Linked DNA regions of Homo sapiens: region 2 is linked to region 1. Evidence: fine-mapped expression QTL. A gene starts in region 1. The other region holds a variant in brackets. All regions are shown on one strand. Distances are from middle to middle.

Region 1 (9,114 bases):
AATGACCAGTTATGTGACTACGGCTAAGTTACCTAGATATTCCCAAACCTCAATTTACTTATATATAACATCAGAAAAAGGTCTATTATAATACATCTAAGGATTGGTATGAGAATTAAGTGGATTTACCAGCAACCCTTGGCATAATACCTAGCAGAGTAAGCACTCAGTAAATGGTAGCTATCATAAGAAATTCTACAGGATCAACAACCTGGTTTCTTCAAGAAATAAATTCAAGGGGGTGACAGAAAAGCTACAAATTAAAAGTCTTAAGAGACATATCAACCAAATGCACTGTATAGACCTTGTTTAGATCTGGATTTAAATTAGCTACAAAATAATTATGAGACAACTGCAGAAATTTGAATATTGATCCCATATTTGATGACATTAAGGAATCACTGTTAACTTTTTAGGTTTGATAATGATACTATGTTTTTTTAAAAGAGTATCATTTAGAGATACATAATAAAATATTTATGGATAAAAGGATATAACATCTAGGATCTGCTTTAAAACAATCTAACATGAGGGAGTATAGATGAAGTAAGAGTGGCCACTTGCTCAGCTGGGTGCGATGGCTCACGTCTGTAATCCCAGCACTTTTGGAGGCTGAGGCTGGTGGATCACCTGAGGTCAGGAGTTCAAAACCAGCCTGACCAACATAGTGAAACCCCATCTCTACTAAACATACAAAAATTAGCCAGGCATGGTGGCAGGCGCCTGTAATCCCAGCTACTCGGGAGTCTGAGGCATGAGAATCGCTTGAACCCAGGAGGCAGAGGTTGCAGTGAGCCAAGACTGCACCACTGCACTCCAGCCTGGGCTACAGAGTGAGACTCTGTCTCAAAAAAAAAAAAAAAAAAAAAAAGAGTGGCCATTTGCTCATAAGCGTTGAAGCTAGGTGATGGACGTATGGGAGGTCACTGCACTACTTCACTTTCAGAAATTTTTGAAATTTTCCCTAATAAAAAGTTTAAAAACAAAAGTAAGTAGAATTGAGCAACTGGTAGCTGTGATGGTTACTATTTTTTCATGGATATAGAGTAGAGTGTGGCTTATCTTTGTTGTCCACTCTCTTCCCCAGAGGGTCTAACCCTGACTCTTCTATGGATGATACAAGCTCAATGTAAACCTAATGATATCAAACCACTCCTTCGTTGTTTTTTTTGTTTTTTTAACTGCCCATAGCCCTCTTAAGATCCCTTGCTTTTTAAAACACTTTGATAGCTTCCCTCTACTCTACGGGTAAAAACCCCAATTCATAATAGAGCTGTTTGCTTTTAAAAGGTCCTATTTCTTTAGCCTCAATTCAGTTCACCTCCTCTTCATACTCTGCACTTGGCCTTTTTTCTGTTCCTCAAATGAGTCATACTCAGTCCTACCACAGACCCTTAGCACTTGTCCCTACTGCCTGCTATACTTCTCCCCTCACCCTCCAACCATCTTTCATCTGATTACTTCTACTCTTTTTTCAGATCTCAGCTCAATCTTTACTTCCTCTAGGAAGGCCCCACCGACCAGCCACTCCACCAAGCTAAACAATCCTCCACGTATACACTCTCATAATCTGTCATACACCTCCTCTTTATAAGACTTAGCAAAAATACGATATTAAAATTTTGTTTTTGTTCATCACTGCATTCCCAGCACTTAGCACAGGGCCTGCCTAGAACAAGTGACCAATAAATATTTATTGAATAAACAAATAAAATGAATTATGATGCATTGACAAGTAGGCCCCCCTTGAGATCTTCCCACTGCTGCCAAAAGACCTCACTGAAGGGCTTGGCATTAAACTGTTAGACATCAAAACTCCCAGTCCTCCCTCACCAGTCATCGCCTACGTTGAAGGCATTAAGACTCTTGGTGAAGCCTTGCATATTGGTGGGGCTGACTCTCTGCAGGAAGTCAATGTAGTCCTCGGAGTGGAAGCGGCACATGTCATGTTGGGAGGCCTGGTATGGCTTGAAGACCTCGGGATGGAGACACAAGATGAACCCAGGCAGGGTCAGCCCCACTCCACAGGCTCAGACCACCCATACTGAACCCAGTCCTGGAGACTATATGAAGCCAAACATAGCATTCCCCTCATCCCACAATCCTTAAGTCAGTAGAGAGACTCCGATTAACCAGGTAAGTTATTACAAATGAGCCCCCTGAAGACCACTTCTTTTCCTTTCCACCTCCAGCTCAGCCTATCGTACCTTCTCAACTTTGAGCCCTGATCCACCTGCCCTGTTCCTTGGAATCTCCTATTCCCAGTTCTCTCCATGCTCATCTCCTCCCCCAAGCTCTGATTCTGTCCTCTTTCCTCTGGATTCTTCTTTCTGGAGTCAAATATATGGGATATATGTCAACTTTCTAATTAAAATCAAAGATTTATTATCTTTGGAAGGTCAGGGGGATGTGTCACACCTCTTTGAAAACTGCACAAGAAAGAGCTTTTCTTCTCCCAGAAAATGCACACAGGTACATACAGGCAAACAATCTCAAGGGATATAGATTCCTGCACTAACATCACCTCAGTCTTTTCTATGACCAGTCCATTTGTCTGTGCCTTGGCACAAGCAATGAACATTCATTCATATTGTTCACTAGTTTCCCTAGCAACACATAAAGCCTGGGTTTAGCTGTTTTGTCTTATTTTTTCTTTTGAGACAAGGTCCTCCCTGTCAACTCAGGCTGCTGATCATAGATCACTGTAACTTTAAACTCCTGGGCCCAAGCCATCCTCTCGCCTCGGCCTCCCAAGTAGTTGGGACTACAGGCACACCCACCGCACATGGCTACTTTTTTTATTTTTATTTTTTGTAGATGTGGGTCCCACTGTGGCCCAAGCTGGTCTCCAACTCCTGGCCTCAAGCGATCCCCCCCATTTCAACCTCCCAAAGTGCTGGGATTACAGGCATGGGCCACCACGCCTGGCGTGGCTTAACTGTTACTATCCCATATCACAGCCATAAATTCCAAGCTGGGAAGACAGCATGTGTATGTCTGGTAGATGAAAAACTGGATAGCGATTAAGCAGAACCATGTAGAGGTATTCCAGGCTGAAAAAGGAATATCTAAAATATCGCCTCTGTTCCACACGCACATACACATTTACAAAGACGGCAGCATCGTTCCACCCTGGAGCCCTAGCTCCTTGGAGGTAAAGAAAGGTGGTAAAAGAGGAGTGGGAACTGAGGGTAAACCTCACACCCTGATACAGTGATATCCGCTCCCCTAACCCTAATTCCTGAGGCCAAGGCCCTATCCACACTCTAAAATGCAGAGGAGGAACACACCTTCTGTCTTCAAACCAGCCCCACATCACGCTAACCCTAGGCCAAGGGCTAGTGTGCCTACAGTCAGAGGGTGGCCGACCTGAGGTGAGAAAGTACTTTCCATTAAGCAGAGGACGCCACCCCCAACACCCTGCACTTTCAAGGTACTCCTGGTGACTTCTATCCAGCTCCCCGATACTCTAGGGGCGGGTCGCACTTCATGCACTCAGTCCAGCCCACCTATCCCTACGGCCACAGCTCGCCCCACCCCCCAACCCCCGGCCGAGGCGGCGGAACTCACGATCATCTTCTTATAGAGACCGTAATGCAGGACCAGGCTATGGGTCAATGCCAGGCGATGGGGCTTCATAGGGTGTCCAGCTCCTGGGGGTGGGGAGAAGAGAGTTCGTCAGCTCTCACCCCTGGAGTTGCAACCCCGCCTCAAAACCTCCGTGTCCCAACCCCTCATGCATATCCCTGTTTCCTCACCGTAGTGGAAGTTGCCCACGTCGGGGTCGTAGAAATAGGCCACGGTCTTGGCCATGGTGCCGGCGGGAGCAGGCCCCGCACCTCCGCCGCCCGCCGCCCGCGGCCGCCGCCAGCCCCTCCCCGGCCGTGCGTGCTGCGCAAGCACGTAGCCGGCCTCTGCGGAACTGGGCGTTGCGGCCCCGCCTCCATCCACACCCAGGCCACGCCCCCAGGGGAGCTCCGCCCCTCGCCCGGCTCAGCTCTCCCGGTATCTGGGGCTTTGAGCGTCCCGGGTTGGGCAGGGAACTGGCAGCATAGCTCCTAGGATGCGAGGGCCATTTGTCTCCGGCCGGGGGTCAGATCCTCGGGAAGCCGAGCCATCCCATCCAGCCGCTTGCCCCAAACCGGGCGCAGGCCGTGGTCACTTCTCTAGGAAGCTCCGAAGATCCCGCCACTCCGTCCCTCAAAGGTGCGGAAAGCCGGCTTCCCCCAGCCCTCGGAGAAGATTCCTGACTCTCCGCTCGGTCGGGGCATCTGAGGGCAGGAGCTGCGCCAGGCGTACCGGATAGACCAGTGGACAACACCCACGCCGGACCGCCTGTCCCCTACCCGGACCCAGACTCGGCGCCGCACATTGCCCCGGGGGGGCCCGGCGCAGTCACGCGCGCGCAGAGCTCACGCTCTCCGCCCCGCACACCTGCGCTCCGCCCCCTGGTCCTGGGCCCGCGACGGGTGAAGGCATTTGGGAAGCCAGGGCGGCTGCGGAGGCGATCTCCCTGACCCAGGGCCGGAGTTGCCCGGAGCCTGCCACCGCTCTCAGCCAGCCCGCATCCTTCTCTGTTCTTCCCTCCCCCCGCCTGCCACGGCGCGGGTATCCGCAGCCACAGCCCGGGGCCGGTGAGGCGGCGAAGGGGGAGGGGAGGAATCAAGGGATGAGCGCCGGAAGGGCGTCGGGGGCCCTGAGCCGCACTAGGACGCCCCTGGAGCCGGAACCCCAGCAGAAGCCGGAACCAGAACCAAATCACCGGTACCGGGTCGGCCAGGTGGTCAGGGTGGGAGAAACCAAAAAGGGAGAGGGGTGCGGGAGTACTGAGAGGAAGGGGCTGCAGAGGCCTGGCTCAGGCCGGCGTGGAGGAGGTGCGGGCGCTGACTCAGGCAGGATTTCTGCTCCCGCCGCCTAAGAATGCCGTCCCATCTCGTGCTGCAGTGTCCTTGGGAGGGACAGAAGCGCGAACAAGCTGGAAAGGGGAACGCTCGGGGCGTCGGGGAAGCGGGACCAGGGTCGTGGTAGAGAGCTTGCGTTGCCGCTGACCTCTTGCCGAAAGGCGAAACAGCACTCCTGGCCCGGACAGCTCCCTGGTTGGGTAGGGGGTGGGGCCGGACCTCAGCCGGACGTCTTAGACGTGCTTGTTTCAGATCCTGAGGACGGCATTCCTACCCCTCCCCCATTCCCAGCTGCAGCCCCCTAAACCCAGGAGGCGCCCTGGCCCGCGCTCGCCCCCCAGGGCCTCATGTCGGAACCACAGCCTGACCTGGAACCGCCCCAACATGGGCTATATATGCTCTTCCTGCTTGTGCTGGTCTTCTTCCTCATGGGCCTGGTAGGCTTCATGATCTGCCACGTGCTCAAGAAGAAGGGCTACCGCTGCCGCACGTCGAGGGGCTCTGAGCCTGACGATGCCCAGCTTCAGCCCCGTGAGTGAGGAGCCTGGAACCCTGGCTCAGTCACCTTTCACCCTTCTCCCCACACCTCTGCCTCCCTGACCAACAGACCCAGGCCAAATCCTGATCAAACCTGCTCAGGAAGCCTAGTGATGCACTCTTGAGTTAGCAAGTGGGGTGACACCACTCTGAAAGCAAAACTAGAGAAAGCAGCATGGGCAGGAACGGTCCTCTGGATGGTAGTCTTGGGCTTGCATTGGTGTCCCCATCTTTTCTGGTCCCTGAAATGCTGAGGTCCAGCATGATAGCAAGTAGGTAAAAGGGTATGTCCTAAGCAATAAATGATGGGAGCCACCAGGTAATATTCCCCCAAAGCTGACTCATTCCTGCTTCCTTGCCAATCTCTTTCATCCTTCAGCTGAGGACGATGACATGAATGAGGACACAGTAGAGAGGATTGTTCGCTGCATCATCCAGAATGAAGGTGGGTCTAGCATAGCCCCTTGCTCCCTCTTCTCCAACCTTCTCTTGCCCTGACCTCCACCTCCACTGACTCCCTCTTTTCCTTCTTCCCTCAGCCAATGCTGAGGCCTTGAAGGAGATGCTGGGGGACAGTGAAGGAGAAGGGACAGTGCAGCTGTCCAGGTGAGCTGGAAACAAGGGCCAGCATGACTTAGCTTGCCTTGGAGAGTATCCTCTCCTCCAGCACAATCCTCTCCCAGCCTCCTTGCATGTATGGGGTTGGGGGAAGGGCAAAGCTGGCTAACTTATAGGAAGAAAGTTGTTTTGTAGAAATCGCGATTCCTTCAAACCATCTCTCTCATCTAGATATCATCAAGCCTAACATTCACCTCTAGTGCCACTCCTTTGGGTTAAGCAGTGTTCTTTTTAGCAAACAGCCCTGGGAGGAAGAACATATGGTCACTAACATCTTAATATTGAGTTTATTAGATAAAGACAAGAAAAAATGGGGCTTGGGGAAATTGGGGCTTCTGGGGTTTTAAGGAGCATGCTGAAAGAACGTAAGAAACAAAACATGAAGGGAAATGGAAATGTTACCCTCACTCCCCTCCTCCCTGCTGTCCAGTGTGGATGCCACCTCCAGCCTGCAGGACGGAGCCCCCTCCCATCATCACACAGTGCACCTGGGCTCTGCAGCCCCTTGCCTCCATTGCAGCCGCAGCAAGAGGCCTCCACTTGTCCGTCAGGGACGCTCCAAGGAAGGAAAAAGCCGCCCCCGGACAGGGGAGACCACTGTGTTCTCTGTGGGCAGGTGGGGCAGGTGCTCCAGGGAAAGGGGGGCTGAGGTAGGGGGCCCAGTGATCAGGCACCTGATCCCAAAAGTGGGCCTTGGCTCTTTCCTCCTGGACTGGGAGCTCCGGCAGAAGTCAGGCTACACAATGTGCCCCACAATCTGAGAAGGCCTCCCCTACCTTAGGCCAGAGGGAAGTAGCCACCAAACTCAGGATGTCCCTGGTCAGAGGGGAGGGCCAAGCAGCCTCTGAGTTGTGGTCCTAAACCCCAGTGTTCCCTCCCCTCCCAGGTTCCGGGTGACACACATTGAGAAGCGCTATGGACTGCACGAACACCGTGATGGCTCCCCCACAGACAGGAGCTGGGGCTCTGGTGGGGGACAGGACCCAGGGGGTGGTCAGGGGTCTGGGGGAGGGCAGCCCAAGGCAGGGATGCCTGCCATGGAGAGGCTGCCCCCTGAGAGGCCACAGCCCCAGGTCCTAGCCAGCCCCCCAGTACAGAATGGAGGACTCAGGGACAGCAGCCTAACCCCTCGTGCACTTGAAGGGAACCCCAGAGCTTCTGCAGAGCCAACACTGAGGGCCGGAGGGAGGGGCCCAAGCCCAGGGCTGCCCACTCAAGAGGCAAATGGGCAGCCAAGCAAACCAGACACTTCTGATCACCAGGTAGGAAAACACAGCCGGGACTGCACTGGGCTGGGCTCTTATTGCTCTCTACTCTGGGGGGCACTGATAGGACCTACTCCTGGTCTCTCATTGTTGACCCCTCCCCTTTCTCTCAGGTGTCTCTACCACAGGGAGCAGGGAGTATGTGAGGTGAGTCTGCCTGAGCCCTAAATGAGGTAATCTCATCTTCCCATCACCTACTTAAACTATTTAAGCCTTTCGGCTCCCTGAACCCCCCGAGTAAACTGCAGGCTTAGCCTTTGCTATAAATCCCTTGGTTTGGTGGTGGAGGTAGGGAAGGTCCTGGAGCCCCAGGGGAAAAGCTGGACACAGCTTGAACAGGAAGCAACAGTGTTATTCTTCCTCTTCTCCAAGTCTCCTTCATTGTGCTGATGGACTACCAGCTGGCAGGGCCAGGGGGTGGGTGGGCGTGAAAGCCCTCCCCTCCACTGGACAGCACTGCCCCCCAGCTGAGGGACCAGCTCTACTTCCACCTGGAGTTGCACAGTCTCAGGCTGGGGGCCTCAGGAGAGGTCACAGCCCCTCAGTCTCTTCTCCTTCCCCTGCCTGCAACAGGCTGCCTGCCCCGCCTTCCCCAACACCTCGCTCCATATGATAGAGCGTGGCAGCTGGGAGCAGGCCCCTGCCCGTGGTGGGCCCCTAAAGCAATAGCACCGTAGGCCCCCTGCCCTCTTAGCACAAGAGGCCCAGGCCCTGGCCTGGCCTTCGTGCCCTTTATTCATTGTCAATAAATCCGCTCAGACCATTACAGCTGCTTCGCATCCTGGCTCCAGCTCCTGATTCCCAAGGCCTGTTCCTCTCCCCAGCCCAACCCCAGTGACCCTGGCATCCAGAGTGGGGTGGGTCATGGAGCCAGGGTGGGGAAAGAGGTGGGCCAGAACTACTAGAGACCTTGATGGATGGTTTCCAGCCCCAGAGATTTCAGGCATTTCACCACCCTAGATAGGGTCATGACAGAAGAGAAGGTAGTTCCGGTCCTAGAGATGATAGAACAATGGGAAAAAAAGGAGTGGGTTCCAGCTCTAGAAATGGGAAGGGGCAAGTTTCCACCCTTGGAGGTGAGGGTGGAAATAAGGGCGATTCCAGCTTTTGGCTGTGTTGCTCTGGATCATTGATGGTGTGGTCTGACAGCTTGAAGATAGGGACAGCAGCATCACTGGGGGTCAAGGCTTCCCTGGCCTTCAGGTGAGGGGATCTGGGTGGCCAGGATCCGGGGCTTTAGCCGGCGGGGGAGGTGGTGGACGCATCTGTAGGGAACACACAGTTAGTGCTCCAGAGTTCTCCCTTAAGGGTATCCCTGTCTATTCCCTCAGCCCTGCAGACAAAACAGGACTGGTTGGAATAACCCCTCTACATACAATCTCCTCCAAGGCAAGGGCCCTTACCGGCCTGAGTCGAGGTGCCATCATGTCCAGGAACCCAGGGAAGTCCAGGGCTTTGTCTGGAAATAAGAACCACAAGTCAGTCTTCAGACTTTGTTTTGTTCAATGCTGTATCTCCAGCACTTAGGACAGTGGCATTCTATAAATATTTGTTAAATTAATGGTCACCATCCTAGACCATAAAATCCATCACTCTATCCACTGTCCTCAACATTTATTGGGCAACTGCTGTATAATCAGCTCTGCTCAAGGTACAAAACTAAGGGAGATAGGATGCATAGTGCTCCCACCCCCAATGGCTGTCAAGAAACCAATAATGAAACCTCAACAAACACAATAAATGACTAAGTGCTAAGTCATGCAAAGTGAACTTGGGGTGGTGGAGATGGTGGT
Region 2 (9,114 bases), 110 kb before region 1:
GTATGTAAATGATAGCTCAATTGGAAAAAAAAAAAAAAAAAAAAGACTTCCTGGAGATCTGGGAAAGCTGGAGTGGAGAAAGCAGTACCGGAATGTTTTAGAAGCAGGACCAGATGAAAGAGCCGAGCACTCCTAAATAAAGACCAAGACTGGGGCAGCTGCATGACTGGAATGAAGCGCCTTTTTGGACCAGCAAAAAGCTTTAGGTAGGCAGAAGCCAAACAGGATCAGATAGCCCGTCTTTTTTTTTTTTTTTTTGATGGAATCTCAGTCGCCCAGGCTGGAGTGCAGCAGCGCAATCACAGCTCACCGTAGCCTCAACCTCCCAGGCTCAAGTGATCCACCCACCTCAGCCTCCCTAGTAGCTGGGACTATAAGCATGTGCCACCATATCTGGCTATTTTTGTATTTTTTTGCAGAGATGGGGTCTCTCCATGTTGTCTAGGCTGGTCTTGAACTCCTGGGCTCAAGCAATCCTCCCACCTTGGAACCTAAAGTTCTGGGATTACAAGCATGAGTCACCACAGCCTGCCAAAGCCCAAGTCTTAACCAGGTCTTCTCTCCCTGCAGAGCCATGACCCAGAGCTACTGTTTTCATCCCAGGAGAGGCTGCCCATAGATCAAGCAGGGAACACGCAGCATGCACACAGGTTACCAATTTAAAGGTCTCCTCCTCCTCCTCTACTTCCCAGGGGCACAAGAGGTTGTCTACCAAGAGGAGAAAGAATAGTGAAGACCCTGACTGACAGCCACAGGACTTATCTAGTTACAGATCATAGGTATGTGCCCGAGACTGTGGGATTTTCACAAAACCATTTATTGGATTATGAACATAAACTAATGCCCCGTGACTGAGACAAGTGAGGAAAAGGAGCCTACGTGAGTGTGACTATGATGGTCTACATGTGTGCATTTCTCATACTGTCCTTACCACCAAAATCTTCCTCAGGCCTCCTACATTTCCACTCTCTTCTGAAGTACTCCCTCTCTAGACCCCATTTCTCATATCCAGAAGGGTAGTAGTTTCCTATCATTTTATTATTTCTTTGAATTCAGTCTCCAACAGTTGAGAAGACACTGCGACTCTGTGCATGTGTGTGTGTGTGTGTAACTCTAGTGGTATATATATGTTGAAATAACATCTGACTCCAGACCTTGGGAAAAGAACACTGGGCCACTTGTCCTGGGCAACACAGGAGAAGGCAGAGGTCCCATGTGGTAGGTCTTTAGCTGCTGCTTTCTGTGGTTTCTTCCTCCAAAATAAGAAGATACCAGTTGTACCTAACCAAGTGGTGTTTCTAGACTTTTCTGGACTCAAGAAGCTTCTGATGTATTACAAACTTCATAAGAACCAGGAGCAGAGAGTAGGTAGGGAGAAGATCAAAATTTCCCTTTTAAGCCTTGAAAGCCTATACACCAGGGAGGGTGTGATTTGGCCTAAGGTCAGGGGATGAGAAAGCTCTTGTTGGAACAGGTCTCCCAGCTTTCCACTCACTCACCATTATGCTCAGCAGGTTGAACAGTCAAGAAAAACTGACCTCCCCATGCTTCCCCCAACTTACTCACTTGTTATTAGACTATTGAAAAGTAGCCATAGAACCAGATAAATATTTTGACTACAAGAGAACAGTCCCACAGGCTGTGTGGGAAAAGGGAACAATGTTGAGATACTGGTGAATGCTCTCTGAGGACAGATTCCTAGAAGTTAGGGGTGGGCTAGGATAAAAACACCAGCAAAATCAACCATATAACGCAAGTTTTAAAAAGGTTAGTGATTTGAAAAAAGACCTTTATAAAACGTAGGCTAGGAACTATTACTAAAGAGGAAGTGCTCTTGTTAATACATTAAGCTTCCTTAGGGAAGAGGAAACTAGGACAGATGGGGCAATCATCATCACACTAAATAACTCATTCTTGTCTCAAACTCTGCTAATTATGTTTCTTGTCCTATTTACAAAAGTAGGGGGGAGAATAAGCAGTGGTACAGGAAATATTCTTAGCAACCTTCTCTAGATAGGAGGTGATATGGTTTGGATGTATGACCCCTCCAAACCTCATGCTGAAATGTGGACTACAATGTTGGAGGTGGGGCCTAGTGGGAGGCACTTGGGTCATGGGGTGGATCCCTTATGAGTGGCTTGGTGCCCTCCCCACAGTAATGAGCTCATACAAGCACTGGTTGTTTAAAAGAGCCTGGCATCTCTCTAGCTCCCACTTCCGCCTTGTGATACACCTTCTCCCCCCTTGATTGGAAGCTTCCTGAGGCCTCAACAGCAGATGCTGGCGCCATGCTTTCTCTACAGTCTGCAGAACTGTCAGCCAAATAAACCCCTTTTCTTTATAAATTACCCAGTCTCCAGTATTTCTTTATAATAATACAAAATAGACTAACACAGGTGGTCATGAGAGCACCTTCCTGAAGCAATGTCATTATGTCCGACTCTCCTTGCTGGAAGGTATGAAAGAATATTTCCGGCCCATACTGTGGGTTCACTGCTGTCTCCTGTTCAATCACGCAGGCTGAGGGGAAACAGGCCTGGACTTGGAGTCACAAAAGTGGGCTACAGTGCTCTGTCATTAGCCATGTAGACCTGGGCAAGACTTTATCTGTTTTTTATTTTTATTTTTTTGAGATGGAGTCTCATTCTGTCACCCAGGCTGAAGTGCAGTGGCGCAATCTCGGCTCACTGCAAGCTCCGCCTCCTGGGTTCATGCCATTCTCCTGCCTCAGCCTCCTGAGTAGCTGGGACTACAGGTGCCTGCCACCACGCCCGGCTAATTTTTTGTATTTTTGGTAGAGACAGAGTTTCACCGTGTTAGTCACCTTATCTGGTTTTAATCCCTTTCCCTATGAGAAGGTTAGATACTAATCACTGGAAGTCTTTAGAGTCTTTCCAACTCTATGGTTCTGTTAGATGGATGGAGCTTATAGGGAAGCTGGGAAATGGTAGAGGGAAGGAAAGGAAGAGTTGAATTTCTTTCTTCCCTTGGCTTTTATCCCAGTGAGCAAATGACTTGTATACAAGAGGCCACAATTCAGACATGGAGATAAAGTTGAGTCATTAAAACCACAAGCTGACTCAATCATGGGCCTGAAATAGCAGCTGTAATACAATCACATGGATTCTTCCCCTTGACACTCCAACCATTGTTCTCCCACACCCTGCGGATCACAGGAGTTTACATGTTGCTTTTAATGAACCAAGCCTGATAGTAACTCTCCTCTTCCAACTCCTCAATGAGTCTTTGTATACTGGTCACTCCCCCAGGTCTCCAGAGACCGGAAGAATTTAACATTCCTTTAAATTCTAGGGAAAAAGCTAGTGTCTTTGAATAGGGACAGCTGCCTCTCTGGAAAAAAGGAGGGCTATGAGGCAGATATGTTCCACAGTGCCTCTGTTTTTTTAGCTCAAAGCAATCAGCCAAGAGGAATAGTCAGAGACAGCCAGGCAAGGGGTGGAACAGCCAAATTCAGTAGCTGCATAGAGAAACCTATAGCCAGTGGAGCCTTTGTATTTTGAGAATGGGGCCATCTAAGTCCAGCCTCTCTCTCCTCTTAATCCTGTTGTCACTGCACAAAAAAAATATTAGAGCTGGAAGGGACCCTGCAGACCATTCATTCTAGTCCAACTCTCATTTTATACCTGAGGAACTGAGTCCCAGAAACATTAAGTGACTTGCTTAGGATAACACAGACAGCATCAGAACTAGATGTGACTTTAGGTCTTTTGATCCCTACCTAGCCCTGTGTTCTTTGTAATCTACTCTGATGGCTATCCTCCTGTTTAATGTGAGACCGCATCACATCACTTTACATGATGTGAATGCACCAGGGTCTAAAGAGTTACCAGAATAACTACAAATGTCTCCCTTGAGATTCTCCCAGATATATTCAAGTGTATTTAGTGGACCCAGAGCCTAGAAAGATAAGCTTATAGGCTAGAGCCACTTAAAATATATGTAATTGTCATTTCACCTACTTTCCAATTTAGTATCTCCTAGTATAAGTCTCCTCCTATTCCCTCTTGCATGGGAGAGAGTACTTTGACTAATTCAGGTCCTCTGCTGGAAGGTTAGTTTCCAACAAAATTCCTCCTTCCTCCACCTGTGAGTTCTGATTTTCTACTTGGAAAGAAGTGAAGAATGGGGCTTCCCCAGCAGAGGGAAGCCACTGATGTCTGGCTACCTGTGGACAGGAAGCATCTGGGATTCTAGTATAGTTCCACAGGAAGAGGCTTAAAAGGGAATTCCCCACCAAAA[T/G]TCTGATGCAGGCACTTAGCCGACGGGGTCAAAAAAAAAAAAAAAAAAAACAATAAGATGCAATGTATTTTTGTAAGGCTAGAAATGCTTAATGTTAAGGCCACATCACCTTGTGTGGTCAGTAGGAAATAATGTTGTAAGAACCTATAAAGACAAAATACAGGAGTAATAGTACCTCTAGCTGTACTCTCCTTGCAAACACCTATCTATAAGACTAAATGCTCGAGCCCAGAGAGTACTCAGCTCTTCATATCCACTTCTCCCCACGCTTTAGAAAGCCTGTACTCAGAGAATGCCAGAAAATGGGTAAGAACTTTGACTCGGGAGCTTTCAGTTTGGGGAACATTCTGAAGTCATACAAGAGAACCCTCAGAAGGGAGTATCACTCTGGTTATTCAGAGTATAGGTAGAAATGGGCAGCCAGCCATTACAGATGAAACTCACAGTGATGGCTGTTGTTGGGCCAGAATACTGAGTTTACATAGGCTAGCATGCTCTAAGGTCCCCCTTTCCAGGCTGTGGCAGGTACTACAGGCCCTACAGATACCACTGTATTAATAGCTAAGCACTGGCCAAAGCAAGCTGTGTTAACTCCTTCTGTTTACAATAATCTCAAAGTATAACTATCAAATGGGCCTACACAATGCAACAGCCAGGAAACAGGGAACATAGATTTAAGTCCCTCTGAAGTAGAAACCTCTAATGATGCCTTTTTTTGTAATTCCCACTCTTCAAATTAGTAAAGAAGCCACCACTCCTAGCCTCAAAAGACCTTCACTAGACACGATAGTGCAGGTCAACTCCACATGAGGGGCAGACTTGCCTATACCTTCCTTTGAATTAGTCTCTTGGCCACTGTAAGCTTCCCTGAAAGGGAACTTATTCATTAATCTTTTCCCATACTAATGCCTGGATCACTTGTCCTAGCTCCATAATTCTTTTTAGAATCTCTAGCTCAATGTAATCCACTTAGATCTTCCAAAGGACATGAAAGGAGATTGCAGGGCAGTGATGGGGAAGGCAAGGGCAATAGAGGCTAACTGCACTCAAGGAAAAGGTAGTTTTCAGACACGGCATAATCCTTCAACTGAGATGCTCCTCTATATTTTTCTATCTGGGAATAATGATGCCTAAACCTGTCTACAAAATTTTATACTTTCTATTATTAGTTCTCTCTACGTATGTCTTCTGCTTGTGAAGTCCAGAGTAAGGACTCTGACTTATTTTTTCTTTGAATTTCAATCTATATCTAATATACATTTTGTATTTAGATCAACTTTTGTTCATACACACAAATGCCAACTCAAATCCCTGGGTCCTGCAGCTCAGTTCCTTTGTTCCAAATATCTGCTTCAAGAGTGGGGAGAAATGCGGCATAATCCAATGTAACTGATTTATTGCCAGTCCCTTAAACCCCAGTTTTCTAAGTCGCTACTCTGTAACATGGGAAGAAGAGGACTAGATAATCCGTTCTGGATGCAGGGACTAAAAAGATGCTTAGAGCATCATTATTTGCTCTTTAGCCGCAGACTGGCAGGAGTAGAGAGCCCTCACCCCCTTCGACACCCAGGATGAGCTCCATGTGCTTACTTACCTTGACGGGGCCCTCTCTTCCGTCGGAATGCTGCCCCTGACTGCAGGGCTTCTAGAAGACTGTCCATCACACCTGTCTCATCGCCCTCTGTTATAAAGAACAAGATGGAGATGTGAACTCTTCAGCCAGAGCAGCATGGCAAATATCAAGCCCCACACAAAATGAATGGCTATTGCTTGATTTCCCCTCTCCCACAGCAGCTGGCAGCTAAGAAGAGGCAAAGAGAGCTCAGCCTTAAGTCTCACACGCTCATGTTTACTTGTATCTGCTAAAAAATGGTTAAAACAAAAGATCTCATTGCCTATTATCCAATGCAGACCTTGGGATATTTTCCCGCAATGCCATCCTCCCCACCCCAATCAGGACTAGCAACAAAATTATACAACTGCCCAACTCCAAGACCAGGATAAGTAGAGACTACGATTGTGAAATTACTAAGCAACTATATCACTCCCTTTTATCCTAAAGTGTTTTGCCTGGTTAGGTTTCAGAGCAGGGCCGAGGAAAGACCACTGATCAAAGAGTGCACTTTCCTGAAGTACTGCCTCCAGTGGCTAAGTCTTCCTGATGTCTAAGTCCTCTGCATCTAAGAGGAGCAGCCTGGCTGGAATACAAAGAGTTAATGTAGAATCCTTGTTCTAGCCTGGCTCGGTTTCCATGACAACAGCTTAGGATAGTGAAATCTGAAACTGTGAAATCCCAAAAAGTCCATAGGCTGCCAGATCCAAGGCTGGGGCTCACTGCTCCCAGCGCCACCTGCTGGCTGAGCATCACCAGTGCAGCTGACCTACATTCCACCCTCATTTGCTTGACCCGGGTACTGGAAACTGGGCAAGGTCCATTACGCCACCTGTTGACCGTGTGCAGCCCTCATCCCACATGTCAGCGGGACTCCACCTTCCCCCACTGCATCCTAGCCAGTACCTGGGGACAAACCCTGGAGTCCCAGGGGAAGGTGAAGGATACTTGGTGTGGGCTTTAATAGCATTACGAAGTTGTGGCTTACAACTAAGGGCAAGGAAATTGCTTTACAGAAAAGTATAAAAAGTCCCTGGTAGCAAGAGGTATCAGAGCAGCCCTTGTGCCTGTGCTCTGTAAAATACTGATTCCTAACAAACTCAGCAGCTCTGTGAACACCTCTTCATTTGCAGAAGGTTTGTGGCCCCTCAGGTTTAGAGGAGGGTGGCATGGGCTCAGTGCTGTGTGAGCAGTGTATGCTGTATTTCCGCTGCCCACAGAGAGAGCAGTGGGGGCGAAGGGGTAGGGAATCTGCAGCAAGAAAGAAGCAGAGACAGGAAACAGAGGGCCAGTAATTGAAACCATATGTTTCAACAAAGACATGCTTCTGGTAGTGAAACAGAGATTCTGCTGAAGAAAGAAGAGGGTGACCGGCTCCCCACCCGCTCCAAAAGTTCAATCCATTTAAAATCTAATTGTGCATACAACTGTGCTAAGGTACTAGGGACATAGTACTTTGTGAAATAAGCAGAAAGGGAAGACACGCCACAATTAAAAGATGGGAGGAGCGTCAGGAAAATATTTTACAGAAAAAAACCCGAAAGATTTAGTGGAGGGAATGAGAACAGGCCAGAGGAACCTTTGGATGGACAGAAGGAAAACAGTATATATCACAGCAATACCACAATCACAGGGGAATGAGAGAGAATGCAAGAGCGAGCAAAGGAGAGAAAAGGTAATAGTTTAACCAGGGCAAGTTGGAATGCGCATGTATCAGAATTGGGGTTAAAGTCCGGCATCAGGATCTCGGAGTGAAGACTGCCAAAAATCATTTGCCAGGAGGTGAGCTCAGACATGAGACTCTGCCTCTAGACTCTAGGCAGAGAAGTCTTCCCAACATTCCTATCTCAGCCCATCAACCCGTCTTCACTCCTCACCTGCATTCATGTCTATGAGTTGCTCTCTCTTCTGCTGCTTCTCTAGCCGCTCCTTCTCTGCCTTCTCCTTGGCTAGTTTTGCTCGCCTCATCTTTTCTTCTGTCTCCCGCCGCTTCTGGTTCTCCTTGACTGCTTGCTGGGGCAGGGAAGAGGAGGAAGGAACACATGGGCATTGTATACCTACTACCAGCCAACAGGAACCCAGGGGAAAGTGAGAAATGCCCACAAAAGATTCAGTCAGCAAGTATCCCTTGCTCACCAAAAACATATTCCGAAAATTGTGAAGATCCATGAAAAATTCTTCAACAGACAACTTCTTGGGGTCAAAGAGGAAGTACTCGCCCAGCTCCTTATAGAGGGTCTCCATGTTAGAATGCATCATCCGCAGCTTGTTATACTGTTCCTGTGCATCCTTCACAAAGCTGTGCAGCCAAGGAGTAAAGGACCAAGACCAAGACCAAGAAGCAGACCCACTTCTCTAGCCCAAGGAATTACTCAAAGATGAGTACTGGCATGCAAAGGGATGTTCAATACAGCACTGTTTATAACAGCAAAAACCAAAGCCATGTAGGTACCCCTAAATAGGGGAATAGTAAACCATGAACTATGGTACACCTATAAAAAAAGAAGGTGGCAGTTTAAACTGTTGTTTGTTTGTTTGTTTGTGTTTGTTTGTTTGAGACAGGGTTTTGTTCTATCGCCGGGCAGGAGTGCAGTGGCGCGATCTTGGCTCATTGCAACCTCCACCTCCTGGGTTCAAGCAATTCTCCTGCCTCAGCCTCCCAAGTAGCTGGAACTACAGGCGCGCACCATCACGCCCAGCTGATTTTTTTGTATTTTTAGTAGAGATGGGGTTTCACCATGCTGACCAGGATGGTCTCCATCTCTTGACCTAAAAGGAGGTTTTCTATAAATACTATTATGGAAACATGGCCAAGACATATGTGCAAAACACAATACAATGCAGTTTTTGTTTAAAATAAATGTATGAGGTGCAAATCAGAATAAAGTCCAGTGGCAGTGGTTACCTCTGGGGAGGGGAAAGAGAGGGAAGCATGTGTGAGCGTGTGTAGTGGAGACGGGGTACAGGCAGGGGAGTTGGTGGGACTTTTATGGTTGATCTGCATGGTGTGCTTCTACTCCACAACAATGGAATGCTCTCAGGAACTATGCAGCCTGGGCAACAAAGTGAGACCCCATCTCTAAAGAAAAAAAGGTTACAAAAAGTTTAGCAGGGCCTGGTGGCACATGCCTGTAGTCCCAGCTACCAAGGAGGCTGAGGGGGTAAGGATCGTTTGAGTCCAAGAGGTCAAGGCTGCAGTGAGGCGTGATGGCACCACTGCACTCCAGCCTGGGTGACACAGA

Direction of the effects. Alleles are on the strand shown, and positions count from the first base shown. SD is a standard deviation of normalised expression in the study named.
For the expression in nucleus accumbens of the gene that starts at base 4,020 in region 1, allele G in region 2 goes with a lower level than allele T (small effect, 0.16 SD a copy in GTEx).

Evidence for each region. PIP is the estimated chance that this variant, and not a neighbour inherited with it, causes the effect.
Region 2: its variant is fine-mapped to the expression of RELL2 in nucleus accumbens (GTEx, PIP 0.93).

The regions. Positions count from the first base shown.
Region 1 is chr5:141,632,978-141,642,091 of GRCh38, forward strand. It overlaps RELL2 (RELT like 2), which reads left to right and starts at 4,020. Exons shown (of 7, transcript NM_173828.5): 1 at 4,020-5,432; 2 at 5,818-5,883; 3 at 5,978-6,044; 4 at 6,487-6,672; 5 at 6,943-7,318; 6 at 7,435-7,468; 7 at 7,694-8,087. The coding sequence starts at 5,249. The coding sequence ends at 7,467. HDAC3 (histone deacetylase 3) reads right to left here and starts at 3,872. Exons shown (of 15, transcript NM_003883.4): 1 at 3,759-3,872; 2 at 3,571-3,653; 3 at 1,834-1,976. The coding sequence starts at 3,813. It overlaps FCHSD1 (FCH and double SH3 domains 1), which reads right to left. Exons shown (of 20, transcript NM_033449.3): 19 at 8,725-8,780; 20 at 6,325-8,586. The coding sequence ends at 8,521. RefSeq lists enhancers at 1,192-1,321, 4,559-4,608, 5,309-5,428 and silencers at 3,345-3,639, 3,649-3,698, 3,759-4,048.
Region 2 is chr5:141,518,289-141,527,402 of GRCh38, forward strand. DIAPH1 (diaphanous related formin 1) reads right to left here. Exons shown (of 28, transcript NM_005219.5): 25 at 8,009-8,173; 26 at 7,750-7,885; 27 at 5,855-5,941. It overlaps LOC124901091 (a long non-coding RNA gene), which reads left to right. Exons shown (of 2, transcript XR_007058971.1): 2 at 693-2,348. Among named protein-coding and RNA genes, the nearest start is that of PCDHGC5, 34 kb to the left of the region's middle. RefSeq lists an enhancer at 2,934-3,228. The variant T/G (reference allele first, on the strand shown) is at 4,261.